7 separate regions of the Homo sapiens genome follow, and all the other regions are reported to be linked to region 1. Evidence: microRNA targets listed by miRTarBase, many of them from high-throughput screens and not tested one by one. Region 1 holds a microRNA gene; each other region holds the end of a gene's coding sequence.

Region 1 (4,444 bases):
GTGGTGGGTGCCTGTGGTCCCAGCTACTCAGGAGGCTGAGGCAGGAGAATGGCGTGAACCCGGTAGGCGGAGCTTGCAGTGACCCGAGATCCTGTCACTGCACTCCAGCCTCGGCGACAGAGTGAGACTCTGTCTCAAAACAAAAACAAAAACAAAAAACAAAAAACAAAAAACAAAAACAAAAAAAAACCAGCCAAACAAATAAAAAACATACACACACAAAGAAAGAAAAAAATACCCAAGGTTATATCAGAGTATTCTCTGTATTTAGAACAGTATTTTGTGTGTATATGATTATATTATATATAAGTATATATATAACGAAATATATACCATATATTTCTGAGACCCTGTGTCAAAGAAAGTTCCATATATTGTATGCTCACAGGAAGAAAAATTCCTACACAAGTGCTTGCTTTGGCAGTTCACATAAAAAAAAATTGGAATGACAGAGATTACGCTGGCTGCTACACAAAGGTGACACCCAAATTTATGATGTCCCATATTTATCTATTTATTTTTATTTATTTTATTTATTCATTTATTTTTGAGACGGAATGTTGCTCTCTGGCCCAGGCTGGAATGCCATGGCTTGATTTCAGCTCACTGAAATCTCCTCCTCCTGGGTTCAAGGGATTCTCCTGCCTCAGCCTCCGGAGTAGCTGGAATTACAGATGTGCACCATTGCACCCAGCTAATTTTTGTATTTTTAGTAGAGACGAGGCTTTGCCATGTTGGCCCTGTTGGTCTTGAACTCCTGACCTCAGGTGATCCTCCCGTCTCGGCCTCCCAAAGTGCTGGGATTACAGGCATGCGCCACCGCGCCCGGCCTATTTTTTACTTTCTTGAGACTGAGTCTCACTCTGTTGCCCAGGGTGGAGTGCAGCAGAAGATTTCAGCTCACTGAAAGCTCAGCCTCCTGGCTTCATGTTGGCCAGGCTGGTCTCGAACAACTGATCTCAGGTGATCCTCCTGTCTCAGCCTCACAAAGTGCAGGAATTACAGACAAGAGCCACCATATGCACACTAGTCCCATATTTAAAATTAGGAAAAAAAAAAACAAAACAAAGATGCCCACACCTGAACAGCAAATCGTTTGTTGTTCAAGTACATCTCAAATACATTGTTTATCTAAAATACAAGTTTAACTGGGGTCAGGTATGAACCAAAGAACAGTCCTTACTTTCTTCTTGTCTGTGCATGGGGGGTTAATATTCACATGTGGTCCCATCTACCAAGGACTGGGGAGGGGCAGAGGCAGGAGGATCTAAGCCCACTTCAGCCAGGGCAGCATAGTGAGACCGCCGTCTCATGCATTTATCTCCTGGTCATGCACCCAGATTTCAGCTTCATTTCCCCAATAAACACTGAAGCCCCATGCACTCCACCTCCGTGCTCTTGCTCATCCCATCTGCAGGGACACTGAGGTCCCCTCAACTCCACCTGACCCCACGTGAGGTTCTATACCAGTGCCAGAAAAATTTCCATAAAGTAAAAGGTGCTGATGGCTGTGCCCGGTGGCTCACGCCTGTATTCTCAGCACTTTGGGAGGCCGAGGCCAGCGGCTCACTTGAGGTCAGGGGTTTGAGACTAGCCTGGCCAACATGGTGAAACCCCACCTTTACTAAAAAAAAAAAAAAAAAAAAAAAATCAAAATCAAAAAGTAGCTGGTTGTAGTGGTGGGTGCCTGTAATTCCACCTACTCAGGAGACTGAGGCAGGAGAATGGCTTGAACCTGAGAGGCAGAGGTTGGAGTCAGCCGGGATCATGCCACTGCCCTCCAGGCTGGGTGACAGCAACACTCCATCTCAAAAATGAATGAATGAATAAAAAAGAAAAATACAAATATTAGCCGAGTGTGATGTCAGGCATCTGTAATCCCAGCTACCCAGGAAGCTGAGGCAGGAGAATCACTCGAACCCGGGAGGTGGAGGTTGCATTGAGCCAAGATCGCGCCACTGCACTCCAGTCTGGGTCACAGAGCAAGACTGTATCCCATAAAAGGACCATCTGAGCCCAACAGGCCTATCTTAAAAAGTGCTTCTCTAGTCTCTCCTGGGCAACAGAGACCTTGTCTTAGAAAAAAAAAAAAACACAAAACAAAACACACACACCAAAACAAAAAACAAAAACCTAACAAACAAAAAAACCAACCAAACAAACAAACAAAAAAACAGACTCCCAACATCATCCAAGTCTGATTACAAGCATGGTCTGCAAATGTATTACCAAGATCAGCATCATCTTCAACGTGGCTTTTCCCAAACGGTAACACTCTAAAGGGAGGCACTTTGTTTAAGAGAAAACAAACAGAAAGCGCTTCCCTTTGGAGGGTCACAGCATGGGATCTTCTTGCTCCAGCACTCTGGGTTTTTTGTTGAAATCTTCCTTGACCAGGTTAAAATGGCCACAACAATAAAGATGCATTTATTGGCCCTGTTTGCCTGTTTTCTAGAATCCAGAACATAAACCCCTAAAAGGACCATCTCCAGTTCCTTTCTTCAAAGGCTCTGCAGGTTAGCCTTGTTCATCAAGGGGCAACCCTCCTGAGTTTTGCCTCTAAAGAGAAAAAGCAATGCCTACTACACATACCTTATATTTAACCAAGAGAACTGGGCTGGATTTCTAGAGAACAGCAATGGACTTTGAGCTGAGTGTTCACTTGAGTTCCAGCACAGGGATACATAGTTCCGATGGGAGCATCCAAAATGGAGTCTAAGATGTTGAAGAATATACATTGTCACACACACAAACATCCTCCAGGATAGACCACAGGCTAGTGGATCACCTGAAAGCGGGAGTTCAAGACTAGCCTGGCCAACATGGTGAAACCCGTCTCTACTAAAAACATAAAAATTAGCTGGGTGGGGCAGTAGGTGCCTGTAATCCCAACTACCTGGGAGGCTGAGGCAGAAGCATCACTCGAACCCAGGAGGCGGAGGTTGCAGTGAGCCTAGATCATGCCAGTGCTCTCCAGGATGGGCAGCAAGAGTGCAGGACACGATGGTGGGTGCCTGATGCCTGAATTCCCAACAATTCGGCAGGCTGAGGTGGGAGAATCACTGGAACCCGAGAGGTGGAGTTTCCGGTGAGCAGAGATCCTGCTACTGCACTCCCAACGAAACAAGAGTGTGTCTCAAAAAATCAAAAAATAAAAAGAGGACCACTTAAGCCCAAGAAATCTTGGTGGAAGGTGCTATCCACCCACGCCTGGGCAATAGAAAGCCTGTCTTGGAAAAATTTCAAATCACAAACAGAACCCCGACATCATGCAAGTCTGATGATAAGCACGCTCTGCAAATGTATTACCAAGATCAGCAGCATCTTCAACGTTGCTTGTCTCAAACAGTAACACTCTAAAGGGATGCACGATCTTTTCTTTTATACAACAGACAGTGCTTCCATCTAGAGGGTCACTGCCTGAGATCTTCTTTTTTTTGACACGGAGTCTCACTCTGCCGCCCAGGCTGGATGCGGTGGTGGGATCTCGGCTCATGGCAACTTCTGCCTCCTGGGTTCAAGCGATTCTTCTGCGTCAGCCTCCTGAGTAGCTGGGATTAGAGGCACCCACCACCATGCATATTGCATATATGACTGCATATATGACCTGGTCATGCACCCAAGATGTTGGTTTCATTTCCCCAGTGAAAACTCAAACCCCATGCACTCCACCTCCGTGCTCTTGCTGAGCACATCCCATCTGCAAGGGACACTGAGGTCCCCCTTTGACTCTACCTGACCCCACATGAGGCTTTATAAATCAGTGCCAGAATAATTTCCATGGACTAAAAGGTGTTAATGGCCATGTGTGGTGGCTCACGCCTGTAATCTTAGCACTTTGGGAGGCTGAGGTGGGCAGATCACCTGAGGTCAGGAGTTCGCAACCAGCCTGGCCAACATGGTGAAACCCCGCCTCTGCTGAAAATATAAAAATTAGGCCAGGCGTGGTGGCTCATGCCTGTAATCCCAGCACTTTGGGAGGCAGAGGCCGGTGGCTAACTTGAGGTCAGGGGTTTGAGACCAGCCTGGCAAACATGGTGAAATCCCATCTCTACTAAAAAAAAAACAAAAAACAAAAAACAAAAAGTAGCCAGGTGTGGTGGTGGGCTCCCGTAATTCTAGCTACTCAGGAGGCTGAGGTAGAAGAATTGCTTGAATCCGGGAGGCAGAGGTTGCACTGAGCAGAGATCACGCCTCGGCCCTCCAGCCTGGGTAACAGTGAGACTCCATCTCAAAAACATAAATAAATGAATTTTAAAAAATGAAAATATTATCCAGGTGTGGTGATGGGCACCTGTAATCTCACCTACTTGGGAAGCTGAGGCAGGAGACTCGCTTGAACCTGGGAGGTGGAGGTTGCAGTGAGCCGAGATCACACCACTGCACTTCAGCCTGGGTGATAGAGAGACTCTGTCCGCTAAAAAAACCATTTGAATCCAAAAGA
Region 2 (3,307 bases), not on the chromosome of region 1:
AGTGGAGGTGGTGGAGGGTGAAATGGACTTCATGAGGGTCCTTGGTTTTGGTGGTTTAATGCTCTATTTTTGTGCTGGTTGGCCTCCTGAAAGGAGGTGGCACTTTCCAGAAAGTATCAGTGGGAGAGGGACTGGTGGTGGGCAGGGTCCTAGAACTCCCAAGATTAAATGACCTTTGTCTTCAGCTACCAGGGTGGATGGAGAAGGACCATCAGGTCAGGGCGGGGCTAGGAGTGTCTGAGCTCAGACTCTCCATGGCTGGATCTTGCTATGGCTGCTGTGGGGGATGGGGGTGAGATTCCCAGGTCACTGGAGTTGTGTACCTAGGAGGATTATGGCTGCCTCTCCTGAGTCATGCAGGTTGTCAGGGGAGTGGGAGAAGCTGGCAGTCACAGGCCTCACCCAGCTCCGATGCAAACTGGAAGGCCGGTCTCACTCCCACTGTGCCCTTCTCCCTGCCAACAGCTCTGAGTCTGTTTCCAGGCAGAGGGCAAGAGGGGCGGGCTTAAAATTTGGCTGAGGCTTTCTGCTCAGCCAAAAAGAAAAGGACTTTAGTTCTTCACCAGCCTGTGAAGTTTGCATGCTGGATTTGTGCCCTCCCCGAGTTCTGGCAGGAGGCTTCTCGCCCCATTCAAATTGTTACAAAGTTTGGTTGGAGAATTTCTTCTTTCTGTGGAGTTTTACCTGTTGCTCCTCTGGCTGACCTCCCGATAGATCCCTGTGGTGCCAGGCAGGAATGGCCTGCCTGGGGACACAGTGAGCTCCCAGGGCCTTCCAACTGCTTCCTCTACCCCTGTATTTTGCTCGGCTCTCTAACTTGACTCAGCTTCAGGTAAAGTCGGAAACTCCTCCTGCACACAAACCTTCAGCTTCTCCAGTGGGGGTGTGTGTTCCAGAGAGGAGGGTCTCCCTTTCCCACTTCTGCAGTTGGGGCAGTCAGAATATTTGGAGTGTTTCCTGGGTCCTGCAGGAGCAGTCTGCCTCCTTCAGAGGGTCTGTGGGTCCTCTTGGGATTCATCGTGTAATATTTTGAAACACTACATAATTATTTCAAGATTCTAACATATACAATCTAATCCTTATGATTCTTATAAATGTAAGTAAAATAAGGCAGATATAAAATGAAACTTTGACCAATGTTTCTATAAACAAAGGTCTGCAAACTATAGCTTGTGTGTGCCACCTGGTTTTGAAAATTAAGTGTTATTGGCACATAGCCCCACCCATTTACTTATGTATTGTCTATGGCTGCATTTGTACTGTATGCAGAGTTTAGTAGTTGAGACAGTTGACCTGCAAAGCCATAAATAATCACTATCTGGTATTTTACAGAAAAGTTAGCCAACCACTGCTATAAAGACTCAAACCTTATTATTTGGTGAAAAACTAAAAAAAAAAAAATGGAAATAAAAAAACTAGTGAAACTTATTTTATTTCTAGTTTAGTTTATTTCTAGTTCAAAAATAATCTGTAATTGCTGTAAGAAATGTCAACCACTTACCTAGGATGTTTGACAATTGGGATGAAGTCTACATATACTAAGTAATGGCAAGACAATTATTTTATTGCTCAAAAGAAAGTCAAAAAAATTCCATATTCCCTTTGGGGAAAATTGGCAGGATTTCAAGTATGACCTTTAAGAATCAGGAAAAGACTAACTTATGCTTTAGGATTAAAACAATCAAATAATTAAATTAGTTCAATTTTCTAACATAGTCTCTATCTTCAGTTAAAGTGCATCATTGCATGTTATACATTACTAAAATTACACAGTGCATAATTGTTACCATGTGACTATTTAATTCAGGGTCAACTGTCTAAAGGTCTCAGGTGTCACATTAAGGTTATAATCTAGATGAATTGAACAAGAAAGAAAAGATTTCTTCATTAGCCAATTTGTTTATGATTCAATTCCTACTCTTGCTAATGATTTCTTTACCTTCCTATGGAAAATATAAGATTCTAGATCTCTGTATAAGATGGTTTGCTTTAGCTTGAGATCCATCAGTGAGAATTATCCATGGGCAATGTCCAGAAATCACATTATTGCTCATAGACCTTGTAGCCTTGATATAATGGAGAACTGTACACTGTCTTCCCTAGGAAGCTAGGATGGTTGTTTCTGATATTGGGACCCATTGTACACTTGGCCAAACCAGTGCCCAAATATGTCCCAAGATTTTTACCTAAGACTTTCCTCAGTATCCACTGGTCGTCTGGAAGAATAAACTTCTGAGTGGTGGCAACTCATGATCCCTCCTCTGTTGGTACAGAGGTAAATGCATCTTTGTTGCACAATTTACAATCTTTTTAAGGAAAAAACATGATTTTGATCATTGAACTGCATGTTCTTGTAAACTTTTAGTGTTATGATGCAAGATCTAATTATTATCAAATATAGTGACACTTGTTCCAAATTCTAAAATTGTTTCAGTTATGCCTTGGGTTAGGATGACAGAAAAGCTCTGTTGTTTAGATCTTTAGCTTATGCGACATATATCTCTTGGTTTTTTTTTTCAGGGTCTTCTGTAGCTTTTGTATCTCATTTTGAAGTTGGGTACTTTCACCTTGGCATCTCTCCTTTAGTACTCGGGCCTGTTCCTAAAAAGGGACAAATGGAGGCTAAATAAGTGTAGCATTAAGTAAATCTCTGTAAGCTATCTAGTTTCCACATGCATTGATTTATTTAGTACTTAGTTTTTTTCTTGAAATTTTCTCTACCCTTGATTTTAATTATAGTTTTTCTGGGCATTTGGGCTGTGTGATTATTTCTCCTGGGTTTTCTATAGCCAAAAGAGTTTCAGCGTATGCCTTCTGCTCTATTGATGAAGGTCTTGCTTTTTTCCCCCTATTAATTATACAAAACCTTTGTGGGAAATCTTAACAATATATTTGACTTCAAATCTTCCCTATGCATTATAGACTTTTTAACACACCTACCTACACACATATTATTATTATATACACATAATACAGAGATAAGTTACTCTCAAAATCTGATTAGGTATATGAATCTTAGATCAGGAAATTTGATCTAAGTCTCTACTCCCTGTTGGCAGGGGTAGCAGAAGATAGGCAAGGAAATCCGAGTGCCAGACTTACCATATAGAATTTCTGCACATAGCTCCCAACTCAACACAAACTGTGAGTAGGGCACAGAAAACAGGCAGGAGTGGTAGACTGCCCTACAGGTGTGAGGGTTAGGGAGTCCTTCTGCTCATAAAAGTTCTCTTAGAGCCAAAGTCATACTAGATGGGATAGAAAAAATATTACTATGGATTCCACTAAGTGATGAAGATGGGTCAGA
Region 3 (3,721 bases), not on the chromosome of region 1:
GTATTTATAAGGGAGATCTTGTCCGAGTGGGTGGCTTTGATGTTTCCATCCAAGGCTGGGGGCTGGAGGATGTGGACCTTTTCAACAAGGTTGTCCAGGCAGGTTTGAAGACGTTTAGGAGCCAGGAAGTAGGAGTAGTCCACGTCCACCATCCTGTCTTTTGTGATCCCAATCTTGACCCCAAACAGTACAAAATGTGCTTGGGGTCCAAAGCATCGACCTATGGGTCCACCCAGCAGCTGGCTGAGATGTGGCTGGAAAAAAATGATCCAAGTTACAGTAAAAGCAGCAATAATAATGGCTCAGTGAGGACAGCCTAATGTCCAGCTTTGCTGGAAAAGACGTTTTTAATTATCTAATTTATTTTTCAAAAATTTTTTGTATGATCAGTTTTTGAAGTCCGTATACAAGGATATATTTTACAAGTGGTTTTCTTACATAGGACTCCTTTAAGATTGAGCTTTCTGAACAAGAAGGTGATCAGTGTTTGCCTTTGAACACATCTTCTTGCTGAACATTATGTAGCAGACCTGCTTAACTTTGACTTGAAATGTACCTGATGAACAAAACTTTTTTAAAAAAATGTTTTCTTTTGAGACCCTTTGCTCCAGTCCTATGGCAGAAAACGTGAACATTCCTGCAAAGTATTATTGTAACAAAACACTGTAACTCTGGTAAATGTTCTGTTGTGATTGTTAACATTCCACAGATTCTACCTTTTGTGTTTTGTTTTTTTTTTTTACAATTGTTTTAAAGCCATTTCATGTTCCAGTTGTAAGATAAGGAAATGTGATAATAGCTGTTTCATCATTGTCTTCAGGAGAGCTTTCCAGAGTTGATCATTTCCTCTCATGGTACTCTGCTCAGCATGGCCACGTAGGTTTTTTGTTTGTTTTGTTTTGTTCTTTTTTTGAGACGGAGTCTCACTCTGTTACCCAGGCTGGAATGCAGTGGCGCAATCTTGGCTCACTTTAACCTCCACTTCCCTGGTTCAAGCAATTCCCCTGCCTTTGCCTCCCGAGTAGCTGGGATTACAGGCACACACCACCACGCCCAGCTAGTTTTTTTGTATTTTTAGTAGAGACGGGGTTTCACCATGCAAGCCCAGCTGGCCACGTAGGTTTTAAAGCAAGGGGCGTGAAGAAGGCACAGTGAGGTATGTGGCTGTTCTCGTGGTAGTTCATTCGGCCTAAATAGACCTGGCATTAAATTTCAAGAAGGATTTGGCATTTTCTCTTCTTGACCCTTCTCTTTAAAGGGTAAAATATTAATGTTTAGAATGACAAAGATGAATTATTACAATAAATCTGATGTACACAGACTGAAACATACACACATACACCCTAATCAAAACGTTGGGGAAAAATGTATTTGGTTTTGTTCCTTTCATCCTGTCTGTGTTATGTGGGTGGAGATGGTTTTCATTCTTTCATTACTGTTTTGTTTTATCCTTTGTATCTGAAATACCTTTAATTTATTTAATATCTGTTGTTCAGAGCTCTGCCATTTCTTGAGTACCTGTTAGTTAGTATTATTTATGTGTATCGGGAGTGTGTTTAGTCTGTTTTATTTGCAGTAAACCGATCTCCAAAGATTTCCTTTTGGAAACGCTTTTTCCCCTCCTTAATTTTTATATTCCTTACTGTTTTACTAAATATTAAGTGTTCTTTGACAATTTTGGTGCTCATGTGTTTTGGGGACAAAAGTGAAATGAATCTGTCATTATACCAGAAAGTTAAATTCTCAGATCAAATGTGCCTTAATAAATTTGTTTTCATTTAGATTTCAAACAGTGATAGACTTGCCATTTTAATACACGTCATTGGAGGGCTGCGTATTTGTAAATAGCCTGATGCTCATTTGGAAAAATAAACCAGTGAACAATATTTTTCTATTGTACTTTTCGAACCATTTTGTCTCATTATTCCTGTTTTAGCTGAAGAATTGTATTACATTTGGAGAGTAAAAAACTTAAACACGATTCATAAAGTTTTTCAAGTTATTTGAGGGAAATGCTTCTGTGGACCGCAGCTTGGGAGTGAAACGAAACCCGGTTTCAAGTGCTTCCTTCCGTTTTTTCCTCAGATGAGCTCGTCCTTGTTCCTCATCAACTCGCTGACCCCACGTTCTTCAAAACAAAGGTCTTCAAACCGGGCCTGGGCCGCGTCTGGCTCCTGGATAGAAATGTCCCCTCCCAGGCCCCATAGAACCTGCATTTTAACAACTGCCTGGCGTGGGGCTGTGGCACAACTTGGGGTTCCAGGATCAATCTAGTTAGAGGATAAATCAGCACAGTTGCAATATAACCCAAGAGTCAAAAGAAGTGAGATCTTTGATGCCAAGGTAGCAAGCTCGTGTGGGCAAGCATTGCCCCCGGGATAGGTATATTTACAGTGTAATGACAGTTAAGTCCCAGCATAATGACATTGCGCTCACAGCAAGAATTGCCGTAATTCAGCCTAATTGCCATTTACTCTGTGGGAGTGTTTAGTTTTTTCTTGGAGAAAAAGCAGAGACATTTTTATTCTTCGATAAGGAAGAGCATAATATGCATCTTCATGACAAAGTATTATAAACGCTTTCCTATTTACCATAGTGACAAACTGGGGGGATTTGGGACGTGGTGTGAGTGACACGTTTGAGTGTGCGTCCAGAATTTCAATGACCCTTGGTGAAACCTGCCATTTCCTTCCCTGCTCCCACTCCTGATCAGGTCTGTCCCTCTTCCTGATAGCAGTGTTGGTGTTCATGGAAGTACTGCCTCCCTTCCAGGCTCCGTTTCCAGAAACGCGGCCGGACCCCTCTAGCTCCCCGCCCTGGCAGTGGCGTGTCTGCACTCCGCGTGCTGGCCTCCAGGTTCCACTCTCCTCCGTCACCTGGTGCTGTTCTTTTGCCCAGAGGGTGGACTCGGCAGTTCCACAGGCACCCGGGCCCTCCTCAGCCTGGCTGCTGTCCCTGCGTCTATCATCCCCCGTTCCACAGGGCACCTCCTCCAGCCGCTGCGCCCCAAGTCGTGGGGGCATCCGTGTCTGCGGCCCTGCCACACACTTTCCCTCCCTCTGGACAACCTGACTGTTTCCCAGGACGCAGCTAAAACACCCCACTGTCCGCTCCGCTGCCACCCTGGACCCTTCTGTGGGATGTGACACAGCTGGGCCTCCTTCTGTGACCATGTGGCAGTATCTGTCTCACTAGAGCCCCTCAAGGAGGCCTGGGGCTCTTGTTCCCGCCCGTCCCCTGGCGTGTTGGGAACCACACTGCCCTACTCCCTCGAGCGCCCTCTCCACATGTGCCTCCTGCCAAAGGCGTGCCCTCCCATCCTCCGCACTGAGTACTCCTGCCAGTGCACAGGCTGAGACCTGCAGCCCCTGCTGGGCCTGGAACTGATCCCTTCCCCCTGAATCTCTGGAGGCTTCCTGCTTAACCCTTCCACTGTGGCTTCCTGCTTTGTGACTCCTGTGGACAGTATGTTAAAATCGTGCCGTGTAATATGGCTGAAGAAGAGGAGAAGGGTACAATCACAAAAGCATGAAGGGGAACCTCCCTCCTTCCTCCCAGCACCAGCTCAGGACTTCCCACAAACGGCCACCAAGTTTGTCCTGGCCAGGAAGGCAGAGCTGTAGGCATAGATGCATAGACAACATTTTTGAACTTTGCACACAAATGAGGGAATTCCTTCTCTCTTGGGCATGAGGACCCTGGCGGGGAGCCTCAGGGCAGA
Region 4 (4,444 bases), not on the chromosome of region 1:
GACGTGGCTAGAAATGAGAGAGGAAGCTCTCATTTTAGAGTTGATTCCCTAAGTTGTCAGAAATTCTGGTTAATTTATGTTAAAGTAGCCGCATGTGGCCAGTGGCTGCTGGTTAGCATAGCTCCATAATGTGGCCTCCTGATGGTGATCTGGGTGGGGAAGGGCCCCAGCTGGGCTTCAGAGAGTGGCAGCAGACCCAGCCGTGCCAGATGACCAGTGCGGATGCGCACCAGGAGAGGAGGCCTCGGGGCTGGGGTTAGAGCAGAGCCCAGAGCCCAGAGCCTGGCGGGGGTCCTGCACTTCCCCAGCTGTGTGCCTCGGCCTGGTTACTGACCTGGTAGGTTGGGTGACGGCAAAGCCACTCAGCCCTGTATACAGGAAGGGTTCTGCAGGTGCTGGCTGCCATTGGCCACAGGAGAGCATGGTGGCAAGATTTCCACACACCTAGAGAGCTCCGTGGGGACGAGAGTTGAGAGACCCCCAGGATGTGGCAGAGGCAGCCCTTTCAAGTGAAGGGACGAAGAGATAGGCGGCATTTGGAGGGATTTAAGTGTCTCAGAATGCTAATTTTTTCAAGTAATAGACATTCTTATCTTGCCTGACAGTTAAAGCTCCATGTTTTTCTCTCTTTAAAGTTGGAAAGCTTCAAGGCTCTGTTAATCCAAGCTGTCAAAAAAGCCCAAAAAGAAAGCCCTTTGCCAGGACAGGCGAATGGCGTGCTGATCCTGGAGCGCCCCCTGCTCATCGAGACCTACGTGGGACTCATGTCCTTCATTAACAACGAGGCGAAACTGGGCTACTCCATGACCAGGGGCAAAATAGGCTTTTAGCCGCTGCGTTCTGGGAGCTCCTCCCCCTTCTGGGAGCTCCTCCCCCTCCCCAGAAGGCCAAGGGATGTGGGGGCTGGGGGACTGGGAGGCCTGGCAGTCTTCATGCTGCCCTGCTGCTGCTGGAAGGATGGGGATCTTTCACCTTTAGGGATCTCAGCACAATTAGAATCGTAAAGTGAATTCTATCTATTTAATTGGATATTGGACTCTGCTCATATAAGCTACAGACAAAAGCCAAAAGACTCTCGCTGTCCCTGTGCTGCTGGTATTTCATTCTCTGTAACTTCAGTTCTGGTGTTTTCCTTGAGTATCTACTTGGCTTCTCGTGGTTTTTCCCACCCCAGCTGCCCCAGCACGCGGGACCCATAGCACACCCCTTAGCGCTTGCCTAGGTTGCTGAAAACAGGGAGGCACCTGGTATCTCGAGTGCCTGCAGTTGCAAGTATGTTTACACCTGGTGTCCAATTTTGTATTTTAAAATGTAATCCATTTTTACTTCAGCTCATCCAAAAGCAGCCAGCAGACCGGTTGACTGAGACCGGTCTGTGGCTGTGGGCCCCTTGGTGACCCGCTGCTCTTTTGGAAATGGGTGACCTGAAGTGACACTTTTTCCACAATTAACCCAAGTTGTGTTAATACTTCAGGTCTGTTTCCCAGACCCAGAAAGCTTTACAGAAAATCATTGTAAGACAATTTATTAATTTGAGAAAGTCACCTTGACAGTTCTTTGCACACAAGTTTTACACCTCTCTGGATTCGAAGTTTGTATTGTATTCATAGTTAAAGGGAATCGGGTACTTTGCTTGTTGAATAATGCACTTTAAAACAAGGAACCGTATCAGGCCAGCATGGTGGCTCATGCCTGTAATCCCAGCATTTTGGGAGGCTCAGGCAGACAAATCGCTCTAGCTCAGAAGTTGCAGAGCAGCCTGGGCAACATGGTGAAACCCGTCTCTACCAAACAGACAAAAAGCAGCCAGGCGTGGTGGCACATCTGTGGTCCCAGCTACTTGAGAGGCTGAGCCAGGAGGATCGCTTGAGCCCAGGAGGCGGAGGTTGCAGTGAGCTGAGATGGCACCACTTATTGCACTCCAGCCCGGGCGACAGAGCGAGACTCCATCTACCAGATCCTTATGACGCAGCTGATGCCTGCCTTGGTTCCTACCACTCTGGTGTAGACAGAGGACTTTGTCCAAGTCTCACACTAAACATGCCCGGGCTTCGATGTGCCTGGAGGATTTCCCCACAGGGACCCACGCACCTCCCTGTATCTGCGCAGCTTGCTCGTGTGGCTGGAAGCGCTGTCGATAAGCTTCACGCACTGGCTTGCCAGTTCTTCAGCTCTAGGACTTGTAGCTTTAAGCAAACGGTGTGGCATGGGTTGAGTGTGGCCACCTGCAGGATGTGCAGGGCTGCCTCAGAAGCTGGCTGGGGACTCTAGCCTCTGTGTTCATAAAGACATTAAGAAGTGGATGGATGTTGTTCCTTTTTTGAAGTTGTCATTAAAGTAGGTGCAACAACCAAGAAAGTGTCTCTTCCCTCTTTGAAAGCCTGCCCCATCTCTGCCGGCTCTGCACCTGTGGGCCTGTTCTGCCTGTACCATGCGGACTGCCTGTCACAGCAGTGCCGAGTATGGTTCTCTGCAGAAAGAGATCACGATATGCAACAACCTAGGTTTGCAACCCTGATCCCCCCACCTGTGGTGCCAACCAAGTCTGGCTGCCTGCCGAGCACCAGCTGGAGAGATTGATGGAATGGTTCTGGGTGGTTCTAGGCACTTCCTGCAAATAGCCAGGGTGGAGACCCACGCACACTGGTTCCGAAACCAGAGTAGACATGAGACTTCCTGAGGAACTGACTCAGCTGGTCGGGGACCTGCAGCTCCCATCCCGAGGGGACTGGACCTGGGGGTGGCGCTGCTCTCAGGTGCCAGGGCTCCCTGCCCACACTTCAGACCCACTGTGGGGAGGCTGGATGTGCCCCACAGAGATGCCCCCTCGTTGTCCTAACACATCCAAACAGAGAACCCAGAGCAGGCCGGGTGTCTGGCGGGAGCTAGTGGCCCGGGGCTCAGTTACTGTAGGGCTATCCATCTTCCCTAAGACTGACCAGAACCTCGAACCTAGAAAACCTGCCTGTGACTAAACGTTTCAAGAAGAGAAGTAGTTGTATAAATCAGCAAGTATTTATTTTAAATAATAAAACTACAGTTTTATACCATACATATTTACAAAAATGCTTTGCTATAGAAAAATAGAATCAATCACTGAATCCAGACCACCACAGTGGAGAACCTCCTGGTGAAGCTGTGTTTTTTCCCACACTGGAAACACAGAGTAGCCCTGTTTCTGCACACGTTAGTGCACCGCTGCTACGTGTGGCCGCCCAGCTGTCTGCAGGCTGTGCCGACCACTGCCTCTGTCTCCAGGAAGCAGAGGCAGAAGTGATCCTTGCTGAGGAGGGCCATCGAGTCTCCGCTTAAATGCCAGCACAGAGAGAGCACTGCAAAGTCGCCTAGAGAGAGACAGGTGGCCAGAGGATTACAGCAGGGGAGGCCCAGATTCTGGGGGATGGGCACCCCCTTGTCCTGCAGGCCAGCACAGTGCCTGGAGTGACCCACATAGGCAGAGCCAGGGTGGAGCCCCAGAGCTGCCTCAAGTCAGGGAGAGGCTGCTTCTAGCCCATAAAGCTGAGGGCAGCGGGTCCCCTGTGTGTCCGTCTTGAGGTTTACGCAAAGACTCTGAGGGCAGTTTCCCTGGAGTGCTGCCGGAGACAGCAGCTGGGCTTCAACAGTTCAGCCCGTGTGATGCCAGACTGCACACAGCAAGGCTGCCACGTCCGTGGCCTCGGGGATGTGCTTACCTTCCCCAGGCACCTGCACCGACATGCAGCCCGCTGGGGACCACAGGTAGAGCCTGCTGCCTCCCGTGCAGATGGCCAGCCGCGGCTGCTGCGGGTCCCACTGAAATGCGCGCACTGGGGACAGCTGCTCGAGCACCGCGAACAGCCTCAGCTTCTGAATGTCCCAGACCCAGACGGCATTGGGAATGTTGTCTGAGGAAGGAAGGACAGGGCACCGGTGTCATCCCTGCCTGGCTCCTCTGTGTTGGCCCTGCCCCTCTGCTCTGCTGTTGACACCACAGGAGGGGAGGGGAAGAACCGGTGGGGTGGGGCGGCTGCACCCTGCAGTCTGGGTTCAGTTGGGCCCTGTAGGGCTCCTGGCCAGGGCCAGGGTGGCCATCACGGGCTGTAAGGGGCCCAAATGTGTTTCTTTCTTTGGTATTTTTTTTTTTTTTTTAGCCCTTTACAAATGGAGAAACCCTTAACAAAAGGCGGGCTGCAGTGTGCCCAGCCCTGCTTTCTACTCAGCAGAGTGGAGCAAGTGAGCAGGGTGGAGGCCTCCTGACTCATGCGCGGACCTGCGGCTGCTGCAGGACAAAGGCCCAGCGCCTCCAAGGAGCTTCTGTGAGCACCTCGGCTACTGCAGAAACGTGAAAGGAGGTGACGTGTCGGAAACCCCCAACTTCATTTTCTTTTCCAGTCGCTTCTACACCTGGGGCCACAGGACACAGTAAAGGGTGAGACAGCACCTGCGTCAGCACAACTGACCGTTC
Region 5 (4,444 bases), not on the chromosome of region 1:
TAAGGCTGGAATCTTATCATTTACTGCCTCCAACACCCCCAACCCCCAACCCGCCATCTATCACTCCAAACTCCTCAAGTGCAGAGCAGCTCAAATGTGGTATCATTACTGATGGGGAGGAGCAGGAAATGCTCAGGCTTCTGTTGCAAGCCAATGTAGGGAACCATGAATTGGAAGGAAAAGCTGTGGCTCTCTCTAAAAGTAAGTTAAAGAGGGTTAGAATAAGAAAACTGCTGGAGAGCTATAGAACTAATCAGTGCAAGCAGAGACCTTTGTGGCCTCCTGTAAATGTTTTTCCTCACGATGGGTATTCTGTAGAGAACAAAAAAAGCTGTGTTCCATTTTGGTTCTATGATTCTTATTTGTTCGGTCTTTACTAAAAAACTCTGATTAAGGTATGTTTGATAATTGGGCATTTCAAATTGTATGTTATGCATGGGCCTACCTTAAACATGTAGTTTTTTTTCCTGTTGTAAGGAGAAAAGAAATATCTTTCACCGTACTTTTCAATTGTATTCAACCCAATAGGCAGGTAAGAAATTGAAACCCATCTGACCACTGAATTGCTTGTGAATTAAAGGTAAAATAAGATTAGAATGTAACTGGCAAAGTATATTGGTACCAACAGATTGCTGCTTTTCTTTTTCTTTTTTTTCCTGTACAAAAAAGAATGATATTGCATTTATATTGATTAATGTAAAATATTTTAGAATATCCTCAATCGGTTAGAATTCAATAATTGTTTATATATCTTACTCTGGATTTTTCTGCCTCACTTTAGTCTTAATTTTCATTTAAAAAATAGACTATAGAGTTTAGATAGGTGTAACATGTATAATTTGGCACATTTATCTCATATTAGACTGTAATTTTGAAAATAGGGATAGCAATAATTTGATGCATCTGGAATTTATATTTCTCATATTGTTGTAGATTTTAACATTGTATTTTTTTCTTTTTTCTTCCCTCCCTGCTGCCTCTCTCCTCTCAACAGTCCTGGTACCTGGGCTAGCTTGGTTCCTTTCCAAGTGTCAAATAGGACACCCATCTTACCGGCCAATGTCCAAAATTACGGTTTGAACATAATTGGAGAACCTTTCCTTCAAGCAGAAACAAGCAACTGAGGGAAAAAGAAACACAACAATAGTTTAAGAAATTTTTTTTTTAAATAAAAAAAAAGGAAAAGAGGAAGACTGGACAAAACAACACAAAGGCAGAAAGGAAAGAAACTGAAGAAAGAAGATAATAGACCAGCAATTGCAGCACTTACAATCACTAATTCCCTTAAGGTTGAAACTGTAATGACATAAAAAGGGTCGATGATATTTCACTGATGGTAGATCGCAGCCCCTGCAACGTAGCCTTTGTTACATGAAGTCCGCTGGGAAATAGATGTTCTGTCTCTATGACAATATATTTTAACTGACTTTCTAGATGCCTTAATATTTGCATGATAAGCTAGTTTTATTGGTTTAGTATTCTTGTTGTTTACGCATGGAATCACTATTCCTGGTTATCTCACCAACGAAGGCTAGGAGGCGGCGTCAGAGGTGCTGGGTGACAGAGCCATGAGCCAGCCATTTTATAAGCACTCTGATTTCTAAAAGTTAAAAAAAATATATGAAATCTCTGTAGCCTTTAGTTATCAGTACAGATTTATTAAATTTCGGCCCTTAACCCAGCCTTTTCCAGTGTGTAACCCAGTTTGAAATCTTAAAAAAAGAAAAAATGAAAAAAAAAGGAAAAAAAGAAAAAAGGAAAAAAACAGTTTGAACACAAAGGCTCTATGGAAGAAATGCCTCTATGTAGGTGAAGTGTTCTCTCTGCATGCAACAGTAAAAATTAATATAATATTTTCCCCACAAAAGAAACACTTAACAGAGGCAAGTGCAATTTATAAATTTATATCTAAAGGGGAATCATGATTATAAGTCCTTCAGCCCTTGGACTCTAAATTGAGGGGATTAAAAAGAATTTAAAATAATTTTGAACGAATTTATTTTCCCCTCAGTTTTTGAGGGCATTAAAAAGGCATTAAATCAAGACAAATCATGTGCTTGAGAAAAATAAAATTAATGAAAACACAGCACTTATGTTGGTTTAGCTGCAGCCTCCTTGGAGGTAGAATTTATTTATTTAAAATTACTGGTTGCATCAAGAACCCATAGGGTGTACAAAAGGTTCTATAAAATCTGCATTATAGAGACAAAGAGGCAGGCAAATCCATGTCACAAGGGTAAAGCTTACAGTTTACAAACTGGGAACGCCAGGGTGTAGGATATAAAAACGCACTCTTGAGAAAACAAATGTAATCAGGGTGCTGAAAACTTGCATGGTGCTTTCAGACATTAGCCTTGTTCAACAAATTTCTTGTATTGACAGATCCATAGTGTGCATGGGCAGACACATTTTGCCTCTATGTCTCTTAAAATTTTAATTAAAAATACTCTTTCCAGTAATCCTAATTTGCACGAAGATATAATGTCCACATTACGTGCCTTGCCTTGAAATCTAAAAAACAAAAAACAAAAAAAAAAAAACAAAAAAATACAACAAAGTGACATCACTACACTTGTTTTGCTGCATTTATTATCATTTTAAATCTTTACCATTTTTATGACAAAATATTTTGTACTCCAGACGAAGAAAAATGTGTGACATCATGGATTTTTTAGACAGTTATACCTTTATCTCACATTTATAAAGCATATCATGGCTGTGTATAGTTGCCGCTTAAAAATTGTAATCGACCAGCAATATTTTCAGTATTTTGGTGTTTTTTTCTATTAACCTTTCATGTTTTTCATCTTCCAATTAATATTTGGGGGGGAGGGGTTTCAAATTTATACGAATTATGCAATACCAAGTTTTGCCTATGTAGGTAGTGCTTTTAGCTGTATTGGTTATTATAGGTAAGTACACAGATTTAAAAAAAAAATAATGTATGCTTTTTTGTTTGTTTGTTTGTTTTAATTGACCAAAGTGGGTACTGCTATTTTTGCAGTGTGATGAGGTCCTTTTGTGTACTGAGAGATGGACAGGGGATTTTTTTTAATATACATATATATATATTCTGGGGTGGGTGGGAGGATTTTTAACACTTTGCAGTGTAGCTGTGAAGCAGTGCACCCTGAGATGGGCCTGGGCTGCAAAGCGACTGTTCTGCCTACTGTGACAAACTTCAACTTACACAGGTTCCCCTCTCTAACTTCCCACCTGGGTTGCAAGCTGAACTCATTACTGGTTTTCATAACAACACAATAGTAAGAACAAGCAAACACAACAAATTCTCCTGGAGGCAGACTTGGCTTAAAAAGGCAGACTTGGCTTGGTGATAGTTTTTCTTGAAAGTTCCAGATCCACAGTGGAGAGTGAGCCTGTCTCATATTTGGCAAAAATATTTGTTGAAATGTCCACATAGGGGATGTTGGATGTTTAACACTTTTGAGAGTTTAACACATGAATATTCTTTCTCCTAGAAAACACATTAGACCTGTTGGAGGGAGTCTCCCGTATTCCTTTTCTGCCACTTTTCGTCCCCATTTCATTTCATTAATGATAGGATATGATTTACCTGTGACTTACTACTTCAAATGGATGGCAGTGCACTTGGATTTTTTTTTAATATCCAGAAGATTGAACAGAGGGTTGCTATTGTTGAATGTATTTGGACTGATAGATTAAAATCAAAGTTCAATTTTTAAGGAACAAAAAAGTAAATCCTGTTTTCATTTTATCTCCCCTTTTAAAACTGAGAACCAGAGCAGAAGGGAAATATAGAATTTTAAGCAATTAATCTTCCTGTGGATGAATTAAACCCATTAGATGCTGATGGGATTTTTTTAAGGAATGGTACCTTAACTATATATTTGATTTCGTTTCCCCTGAGGGCTAGAGGCTGAATGGAGGCTGGTTTTATTTTGCCTTTCCCTCACCGCCCAGTCCCATTGAGTGTATTCATTACTAGAAGGAAAATCTTTCAGAATTGGTGACACATGGTAGGCTGTCTTAAGGAGTCCCCTGGCCCCCTTCCCCTAGGCCATGGCCTAATAAAATAAACTGTCAATTGTTCTCACAGCATATCATTTAATAATGAATACTTTAGAACAATGCTTATGGGCTGGAGAATTGTATTTGATTAGCCCATTCAGTTTGATAGCCCAAATGCTGAACAGCACAGCGGGATCCTAGCAGTGCAAGTTCAAAAGTAAGTCCAATCATTTCTGTGATACTCGCCCTGGTAGCAAACAGATCATCTCAGCCAAGCTCTTCATGTATCTTTGACCTATTAGGTGAACAAATGAACCTCACAGGACACACAGTATTTTTTAAAGGCAGACTCGCTCTCTTTTTTGCCAGTGAGCAGTTCTAGCTAACCAAGTTACACACTGTGGGTATTCCTGCCTGCCTCTTGAATACAAAGGCCTAGTTCAAGTGTTGCTTT
Region 6 (3,000 bases), not on the chromosome of region 1:
CAGAGCAATTCCTACTTCTCCCTCATGAGGAATTGGAGGAGGTGGTGATAAAATTCTTCATCTGGTTGTGAGGTGGTATTTCACACAACTCCTTGATAAATATTGGAGGTGATACTGGATACAGGAAAACTTACAATAATCAGATTGTTACAGGTAGTTAGGCATCAACAGGGCAGCAGAGGGCTCTCTCCCGACCCACTAGAAATGTCAGGTGATGGTTCAGCAATTAACAAATTGCCTCTCTAAGAATGAGAATTCGGCAGCCAGGGAGAGACAATCTCTTGATGGTCCACACCTGTTAACATTAAAAGTGTTAATTGAATACAGCCCCCCAAGCAGCAGCTTCTTGGGCACCCGTGTTAAGAGACAAATGGCGAAGTATAGGCCGGGCACGGTGGCTCACACCTATAATCCCAGCACTTTGGGAGGCTGAGGTGGGTAGATCACCTGAGGTCAGGAGTTCAAGACCAGCCTGGCCCACATTTTATATTTTTTGTATTTTTAGTCTCTACTAAAAATACAAAAATAGGCATGGTGGCACGTGATGGCGTGCGCCTTTAGTCCCAGCTACTCAGGAGGTTGAGAAAGAAGGATCACTTGAGCTTGGGAGGTGGAGGATACAGCGAGCTAAGATCATGGCACTGTACTCCAGGCTGGCTGACAGAGACTCCAAAAAAAAAAAAAAAAAGAAAAGAAAGGCCGGCACCGTGGCTCATGCCTGTAATCCCAGCACTTTGGGAGGCTGAGGCGGGCGGATCACGAGGTCAAGAGATCGAGACCATCCTGGCTAACACGGTGAAACTCTGTCTCTACTAAAAATACAAAAAATTAGCTGGGCGTGGTGGCGGGCGCCTGTGGTCCCAGCTACTTGGGAGCCTGAGGCAGGAGAATGGCATGAACCCGGAAGGTGGAGCTTGCGGTGAGCCGAGATCATGCCACTGCACCCCAGCCTGGGCGACAGAGCAAGACTCCATCTCAAAGAAAAAAAAAAAGGAATTTATAATTATATATTATTCTGTATCTTTATATATTAATTATATATTCTATAATTTTTTTGAGATGGAGTCTTGCTCTGTCTCCCAAGTTGGAATGCAGTGGTGCAATCCCAGCTCAATGCAACCTCCACCTCTGGGGTTCAAGCGATTCTCCTGCCTCAGCCTCCGGCGTAGCCAAGACTACAGGTGCATGCCACCATGCCCGGCTAATTTTTGTACTTTTTGGTAGAGATGGTGTTTCACCATGTTGGCCAGTCTGGTCTTGAACTCCTGACCTCAAGTGATCCTCCTGCCTTGACCTCCCAAAGTAATGGGATTATAGGTATGAGCCACCACGCCAGGCTATATTCTATAAATTCTAAAGAGAATGAAAAGGACTTGCCAAGCTTCCTTTGGGAGATACTAAATTTGTTTTTTTTTTTTTTTTGAGACGGAGTCTCGCTCTGTCACCCAGGCTGGAGTGCAGTGGCTTGATCTTGGCTCACTGCAAGCTCCGCCTCCTGGGCTCACACCATTCTCCTGCCTCAGCCTCCTGGGACTACAGGTGCCTGCCACCACACCCGGCTAATTTTTTTTTTTTTTTTGTATTTTTAGTAGAGACAGGGTTTCACTGTGTTTGCCAGGATGGTCTCGATCTCCTGACCTTGTGATCCACCCGCCTCAGCCTCCCAAAGTGCTGGGATTACAGGCGTGAGCCACCACCCCTGGCCCAAATTTTTTTTTTTTTTTTTTTGAGACAGTGTCATACTATGTCATCCATACTGGAGTGCAGTGGCACCATCATTGCTCACTGCAGCCTTGACCTCCCTGGGCTCAGGCGATCCTCCCACCTCAGCTTCAGGAGTAGCTGGGACTACTGGTGTGTACCACCATGCCTGGCTAATTTTTGTATTTTTAGTAGAGACAGGGTTTTGCCATGTTGCCCAAGCTGGTCTCAAACTCCTTGGCTCGTGATCCTCCTGCCACGGCCTCCCAAGTGCTGGGATTACAGGCATGAACCACTGTGCCTGGCCTAAATTTACTTTTATAACAATTACTTTTTAAAATGTCAGAACTTCCTTATAATTACACACATATATTTTTATACAAATGCACAAAGGTAATCACATCTTATCTGGATTTCTGTGTGCACCTTTTCTTAAAAATGTTAACAATCACATATAACCTCGTAGAAATTGTTTTCGTTTGCAGATGCCTCCTTTTTCATAAAATTATGTCCTTGTTTTATAATGCTGTCTTTTCCAATATAGCTGGGATCACGCCACTGCACTCCAGCCTGGGTGACAGAGCAAAACTCCATCTTGGAAAAAAAAAAAAAAAAGAAAGAAATATAATTGGTGATGCTTCTGAAGAGAAAATCCTTTGTGGTTCTTCATATTCCTAACTTGCATGACACTCTTGCTCAAAGAAGGATACCTGCTCCTAAAACCCGTCTACCAGCGGGTCTGGCTACTGTTGCTGTGGATTCCTGGGCAATACCAATCCTGCTCAACGCTTTGGATGTCCCACTCTGCCTCAACTCCAATCGGCCTCTATCATTGCAAACAGTTGGCTGAGCCTTTTCTTAATGTCCAGTTCATTTGGAGCAGGACAGGATTTTGTGTGTACTCTGATGTGCTCCGCAAGCTTAGACTTGTAAATGAAGCCCTTCCCACAATCGCCACAGGCAAAGGGCCTCTCGGGCCTGTGGATGCGCTGGTGCCTCAGCATGTGTCCCCTTTCCCGGAAGTTCTTGTCACACTCAGGGCAGTGAAAAGGCCTCTCCCCTGTGTGCAGGCCCTGATGGCTGAGCAGCTGCGCCTTCAGGCGGAAACTCTTGTCACACTTGGGACACTGAAAAGGCTTCTCTCCCGTGTGCGTTCTGATGTGCTCGATGAGCTTTGAGTGTTTCACAAAGCCCTTGCCGCACTCACAGGAGAAAGGCATCTCCCCGCTGTGCAGCAGCTGGTGGGCCTTCATGTCGGCCTTCACGCGATAGCGCTTGTCGCACTCCGGACACTGGAAG
Region 7 (4,444 bases), not on the chromosome of region 1:
TCTTAGGGCCTTATCTGTCTTATCAAACTGATAATGCTTTTAACTTTTTTTTTTCATTAATGCATCCTTTGAGGCAAAGGTATAAATTTGGTGTTTTCCAAGTGCCAGCCATTGTGCTAAGCATTATGGATTCAGCTCTAAAGCAAACCTGGTTGGTAGTCTAGTGGAGAATTAGCAAGCAATTACAGTAGATTGTGATTTTTTTGATGTGATTAAGTGCAGAATATTGTGGGGACCTACCTTCTGGAACCTTGAATTTTTGTTTCCATTTTAATTTTTGTGTGTGCTTGTGTATTTACTTGTTTTTGTTTTGTTTTGTTTTTTTTGCAGAATTCTTTGCTCGGCTCAGCACAAATGTGTGCACCTTGGCCCTCAACAGCAGTTTGGTGGACCTGGTGCACTATACACGACAGGGTTTTCAGCAGCTACAAGAATTAACCAAAACACCTTAATGGAGCCCCAGGTTGATTCAATGCCTTGGGAACTATTTTTGCACATTGGAAGCCTCAAAAACAGTCCAGACATTTGTTTCATCAGGACACCAAACTCTAAAAAAGAAGCACCACGAGATGGCCAGGACATTTGTCCACTTAAACTCTCAACAACAGTGTGATCATTGGTTGGACACTGTGGTTATGCAGAAGCAGAGATGAGGAGGCTGGCCCCAGAGATGATCTTGCCCTTCCTAACTAAAGGACAGAAGTGCAATTTAGCTTAAATGGGTGTATGAATGGTCTAGAAACATTTCTATTTTTTTTTTAAACCAGCAGGATACAAGTTGCAAATGAAATGAGGAGAAACAGTTTCAACTCTGAAAGTGAATTTCACGTCATCTCAGTAGCCACGCTAGTCCATTCCCAGAAGGAAATTTTTTTTTTTAACAATGACTTTTGGTAAAGGGTTTTGTGGATGATTTTTTTTCTTTTGAGTTTTGGGAGAAATATTTGTTTAGTAACTTCTAATGGCCATCTGTAAACCATAAGTAATGAAGGACTCCACTGTGCCCCACTTTCTGCCAATGAACAGTGGCTTGATAATACCAAGTATTGTTGTAATTTATAAAATTGAAGGCAACCCCCGCTCCTGCCGCCCCCAATCTCCCCATTGCCTAGAGCGCTGCACATTGACCCCAGCTCTGACTTCTCATTACTGTGCTGAAAGTCAGCCCACGTCGGAGCGGTGAGGAGGAGCCACAGCACATGGGGTGCCACCTCGAGGTCTGCACAGGAGGACTTGGCGCTGCCATTTCCTACCCCTGCCATTTCCCACCCCTGCTTCAGCGAAAGGGACTCTCTAACAGGGCAGTCACTGTTGACTCTATTCTGAATTTCCTCCCTTGGGGAAGAAGGGAACCAACATTTATACCTGACCAGATGGCTAAAGTGCTTTTAAAGTTTTGTTTAAGTAGAGCTGGAATTTGAGGTGCTGATCTGTGGTCTACAGTTATGTGGTAACTCATGTTGTCCAGCCAACTCAGAGTTTCGTCAGTGAACAAGAAACATGAAATCTGCTTCTTAGAGAGGCTATATTTTTCTGCTACAAATATTTTATATTTATAGCAAAACTAGACTTTCAGAGTCCTTGATTGTCTAGGGGAAGTTAACTCCCTGAGAGGATGTAGAGATTTGGGGTGGTTGATTAGACTTTTGAAAAACTCATCACCACATGCCTTCACTCCAGAGTGTTCTCAGCTAGATTTGATTTGGTTGAGGAGGAACTGTGGCCCTCCGTAAGTTATTGCCATAGTGTATGCATTAAACCAAGTCCATTTTGAATGACCTAAAATGAAGTAACACAATCAGAAATCCCATGTGCCCATAAGCACAGATTTTTCTTTTTCATTGAAACTTTAAAGGTTATTATTGGAAACATTACTTTGAGTGCAGTGTTTTTAAAAGCCAATTCTTTTTTATCCCTTTTAGAAGTAGAATTTGCACACTTACTACAATTGAGGAGTGTCATCTCTATAACTTTTTCTCCGCCTTTGTCCCATTCTGCCCCTGTACATGTTTCCTACCAAGCATGTTTCACATTTTCCTATTAGTGGAGGAGGGAGAACCATATTTATTTATAATGAAGACATCTAAGATCCCTATGATGAATGCAGGAACTCTCTTGGTAGTTTGTAAATACACAAAGGGATGTGTCGAGGGATGGGAGCGATGCTTATCTCTCACAGTGTGAGTGGTCTGTGTGAGGCTGTTCCTTCAGTTTCTTCTCCAGACTGTTCTTTGGTTGTCACTAAGTCAGAGGTCTGGTCCCTCATGTTTAGGTGAAAGCCAGAGAATGACAGCTGTAGTCATATCTGAGCATAAGACCTTGATGTGTGATTCCTGATGACCGGTTTCATTTATTCATGTTATAAAGCAAAGCCCTGGTCCTTTTTAAACTACTAGTTTTAAAAACCTGTGTTAAATGAACAGTAATTGCCTGGTAGGTTTGGTGTGTGTGTAGCATTGTGTGTCCATCTGTTATATGTAAAGGACAAGGCACCAGAATCAGGCTTTATTTCGATATTGAAGATGTTATTTAACATCTTTCTTTTTTCCTTACTCCCTTAGCCATCCCCTCCCCTTTTGTCCTATCATTCCCTAGAACAAGCCACCTGTCAATTGTGAAGGGTTGTGTTCTTTATGGCAGGTTCTATGCAGATTGTGCCAGAGCATGTGCGTGTTCTGTTGGCAAGCCACAGTGCTCCCTTGACTGAAGACATTTCCAGGTAGATTTCTCAGCCAGCTCTAAAACAGATTGCTTTTTCAGTGGCCTTACTCTTTGTGGGTTTTTTTTTTTTTCTCTGAACTTGATATAAAGATTTTATTTGTCCCTTGAAAAAGTAACAAATGTGCATAGATCAATTTGTACTACTTTGGTCATTGGATATTTCTGATCCTTATTGCATTGTACCTAAAGGAGAGTAACTAATGGTAACCTTTTTAATAGAGTATGTGAAAGGTAGTGGCTGATGAATCCTTAACGTTCATAGGGTCTTTTTGCTGTTACGGTTGTATATAGAGGTCTGAAGGATTTTTAAAATGATTTGCACTTTTTCACTGCATGCTTACAATTCCCAAAGGCAAAATCTGTACTGAGGTAGATCATTTGAAAGGGCTAGATTATAAAATTAAGCCTTAGAGTATGGAAAGTTCTTATAACAATAATAGTACACACTTCAGAGTAAGACAAATGCAAAGCATCTTAAGGAGTGAAAATAGAGTGTAAATCTTGCCTTTGGCACTACAAGGTGTGTGTGTGTGTGTGTGTGTGTGTGTGTGTCTTTAGTAGGAAATGGAAGAACACTGTTTTATTTTTTAAAGTGTTTAATGTTTCTGTCCTTTCTGTGAATTATTGAATTTAAGAGCCCTGCTAAATAATGAAAAAACACTTTACTAAAATTTATCAAATTATACTGGGTTCGGATTGTGAAAACATTGGCCACCTAGTAGCAGTGGTGAGGAGTGGGAGGGCCCAGCAAGCATTTATCAGAAATAGAATCACAATAGGAGGAGAATTTGACTGTCTGATATTATGATTTGATTACAATACTGAATGGGAAAAGTATCTAATATTTTGTAACAAAAAGACCTTCATATTATCTGTTTTGACCAAAATATGTAGCTATTTCCCTTACACAGATTGGACCGCACTTATCTCCCTTGTCCTGTATCCTTTAATTTCAGGTCTCAGGATGTTTAGAAAGCTAAAACCCCCTACCCCTTTCTGGCTGAAAACTTGCCTTATTTGGTATCTTACACATTAATGTTACTAGCATCAGGAGCTTACTGTTTTATTATGATTCATCTTCAGTAATTTTTAGAAGCAAGAAGAAAGCCATTGTGTCCTCTACAATTAACAAAACTTATCTCTGATATACAAAGGGATATAAATATATACACTTAAATAGAGAAAAAGAGGTTGATTGAATTGTGCCTTTGAGTGAACCCAGTTTTTAAATACCGCTGTGTTTGTTTCGCCATGGCTTCAGGGATGCTACATGGCTCTTGCACCTTTTACTCCTCTGCTTTATGAAGTTTGAGTTGTATTTGTGCATCTTAAAGTAGGTTGAGGCTTGAGGCTGGGCTTTCGGGTTTTTTTGTTTTTTGTTTTGTTTTGTTTTGTTTTGTTTTCTTGTACTTAAACCTGCTTGCTTCCTACCACAGATTCTTTATTTTCCCAAACACTACAAAAAAACTTTTAAAACTTTGCCATTTCATCTGTTTACACTCTTTGCCACTGATTAGCAGTATTTAAATCTTGCAAGAATATTTTGTGCTTTCTTTAGAAACACAAGAGTATAGATTTTTCTCACTGAAAAGTGAGAGTTACGCATTGCAGCCATGAAGGGATGCTAGGATCAATTATGGCAGTACCTTTTTTCCCCTCCTGTTCTTGAGCCAGTTGTCTCTTTTGTTTTGGGTCCCACTTAGGATTAATGGATGTAAGGTAT

What was found. Region 1 holds the annotated microRNA hsa-miR-519d-3p (CAAAGUGCCUCCCUUUAGAGUG, at 2,273-2,294, opposite strand). A microRNA usually pairs through its seed, bases 2 to 8, with sites in the 3' UTR of a target mRNA and lowers its output. Matches are read on the target gene's strand: a 7mer-m8 pairs with bases 2 to 8, a 7mer-A1 pairs with bases 2 to 7 and ends in A, and an 8mer does both.
Region 2: miRTarBase lists GBP3 as a target of hsa-miR-519d-3p. Seed matches in the 3' UTR shown: 8mer at 1,731-1,738.
Region 3: miRTarBase lists CHSY1 as a target of hsa-miR-519d-3p. Seed matches in the 3' UTR shown: 7mer-A1 at 968-974.
Region 4: miRTarBase lists TPRG1L as a target of hsa-miR-519d-3p. Seed matches in the 3' UTR shown: 8mer at 1,646-1,653.
Region 5: miRTarBase lists NFIB as a target of hsa-miR-519d-3p. The part of its 3' UTR that is shown has no 7-base or 8-base seed match.
Region 6: miRTarBase lists ZNF786 as a target of hsa-miR-519d-3p. The part of its 3' UTR that is shown has no 7-base or 8-base seed match.
Region 7: miRTarBase lists AFF1 as a target of hsa-miR-519d-3p. Seed matches in the 3' UTR shown: 7mer-m8 at 3,040-3,046 and 7mer-A1 at 3,380-3,386.

Annotation. Positions count from the first base shown.
Region 1 is chr19:53,711,250-53,715,693 of GRCh38, reverse strand. It overlaps MIR519D (microRNA 519d), which reads right to left and starts at 2,347; the gene lies at 2,260-2,347. It overlaps MIR517A (microRNA 517a), which reads right to left and starts at 3,426; the gene lies at 3,340-3,426.
Region 2 is chr1:89,005,252-89,008,558 of GRCh38, forward strand. GBP3 (guanylate binding protein 3) reads right to left here. Exons shown (of 11, transcript NM_018284.3): 11 at 1,429-2,601. The coding sequence ends at 2,473. Among named protein-coding and RNA genes, the nearest start is that of RBMXL1, 14 kb to the left of the region's middle.
Region 3 is chr15:101,173,987-101,177,707 of GRCh38, reverse strand. CHSY1 (chondroitin sulfate synthase 1) reads left to right here. Exons shown (of 3, transcript NM_014918.5): 3 at 1-1,981. The coding sequence ends at 320. Among named protein-coding and RNA genes, the nearest start is that of LRRK1-AS1, 24 kb to the right of the region's middle. RefSeq lists an enhancer at 2,511-3,397.
Region 4 is chr1:3,627,774-3,632,217 of GRCh38, forward strand. TPRG1L (tumor protein p63 regulated 1 like) reads left to right here. Exons shown (of 5, transcript NM_182752.4): 5 at 636-2,354. The coding sequence ends at 830. WRAP73 (WD repeat containing, antisense to TP73) reads right to left here. Exons shown (of 12, transcript NM_017818.4): 10 at 4,440-4,444; 11 at 3,693-3,884; 12 at 2,997-3,344. The coding sequence ends at 3,202. Among named protein-coding and RNA genes, the nearest start is that of TPRG1L, 5.0 kb to the left of the region's middle.
Region 5 is chr9:14,084,877-14,089,320 of GRCh38, reverse strand. NFIB (nuclear factor I B) reads left to right here. Exons shown (of 11, transcript NM_001190737.2): 11 at 995-4,444. The coding sequence ends at 1,012. Among named protein-coding and RNA genes, the nearest start is that of LINC00583, 160 kb to the right of the region's middle.
Region 6 is chr7:149,067,913-149,070,912 of GRCh38, forward strand. It overlaps ZNF786 (zinc finger protein 786), which reads right to left. Exons shown (of 4, transcript NM_152411.4): 4 at 1,729-3,000. The coding sequence ends at 2,511. Among named protein-coding and RNA genes, the nearest start is that of ZNF786, 21 kb to the right of the region's middle.
Region 7 is chr4:87,135,250-87,139,693 of GRCh38, forward strand. It overlaps AFF1 (ALF transcription elongation factor 1), which reads left to right. Exons shown (of 21, transcript NM_001166693.3): 21 at 331-4,444. The coding sequence ends at 452. Among named protein-coding and RNA genes, the nearest start is that of KLHL8, 83 kb to the right of the region's middle.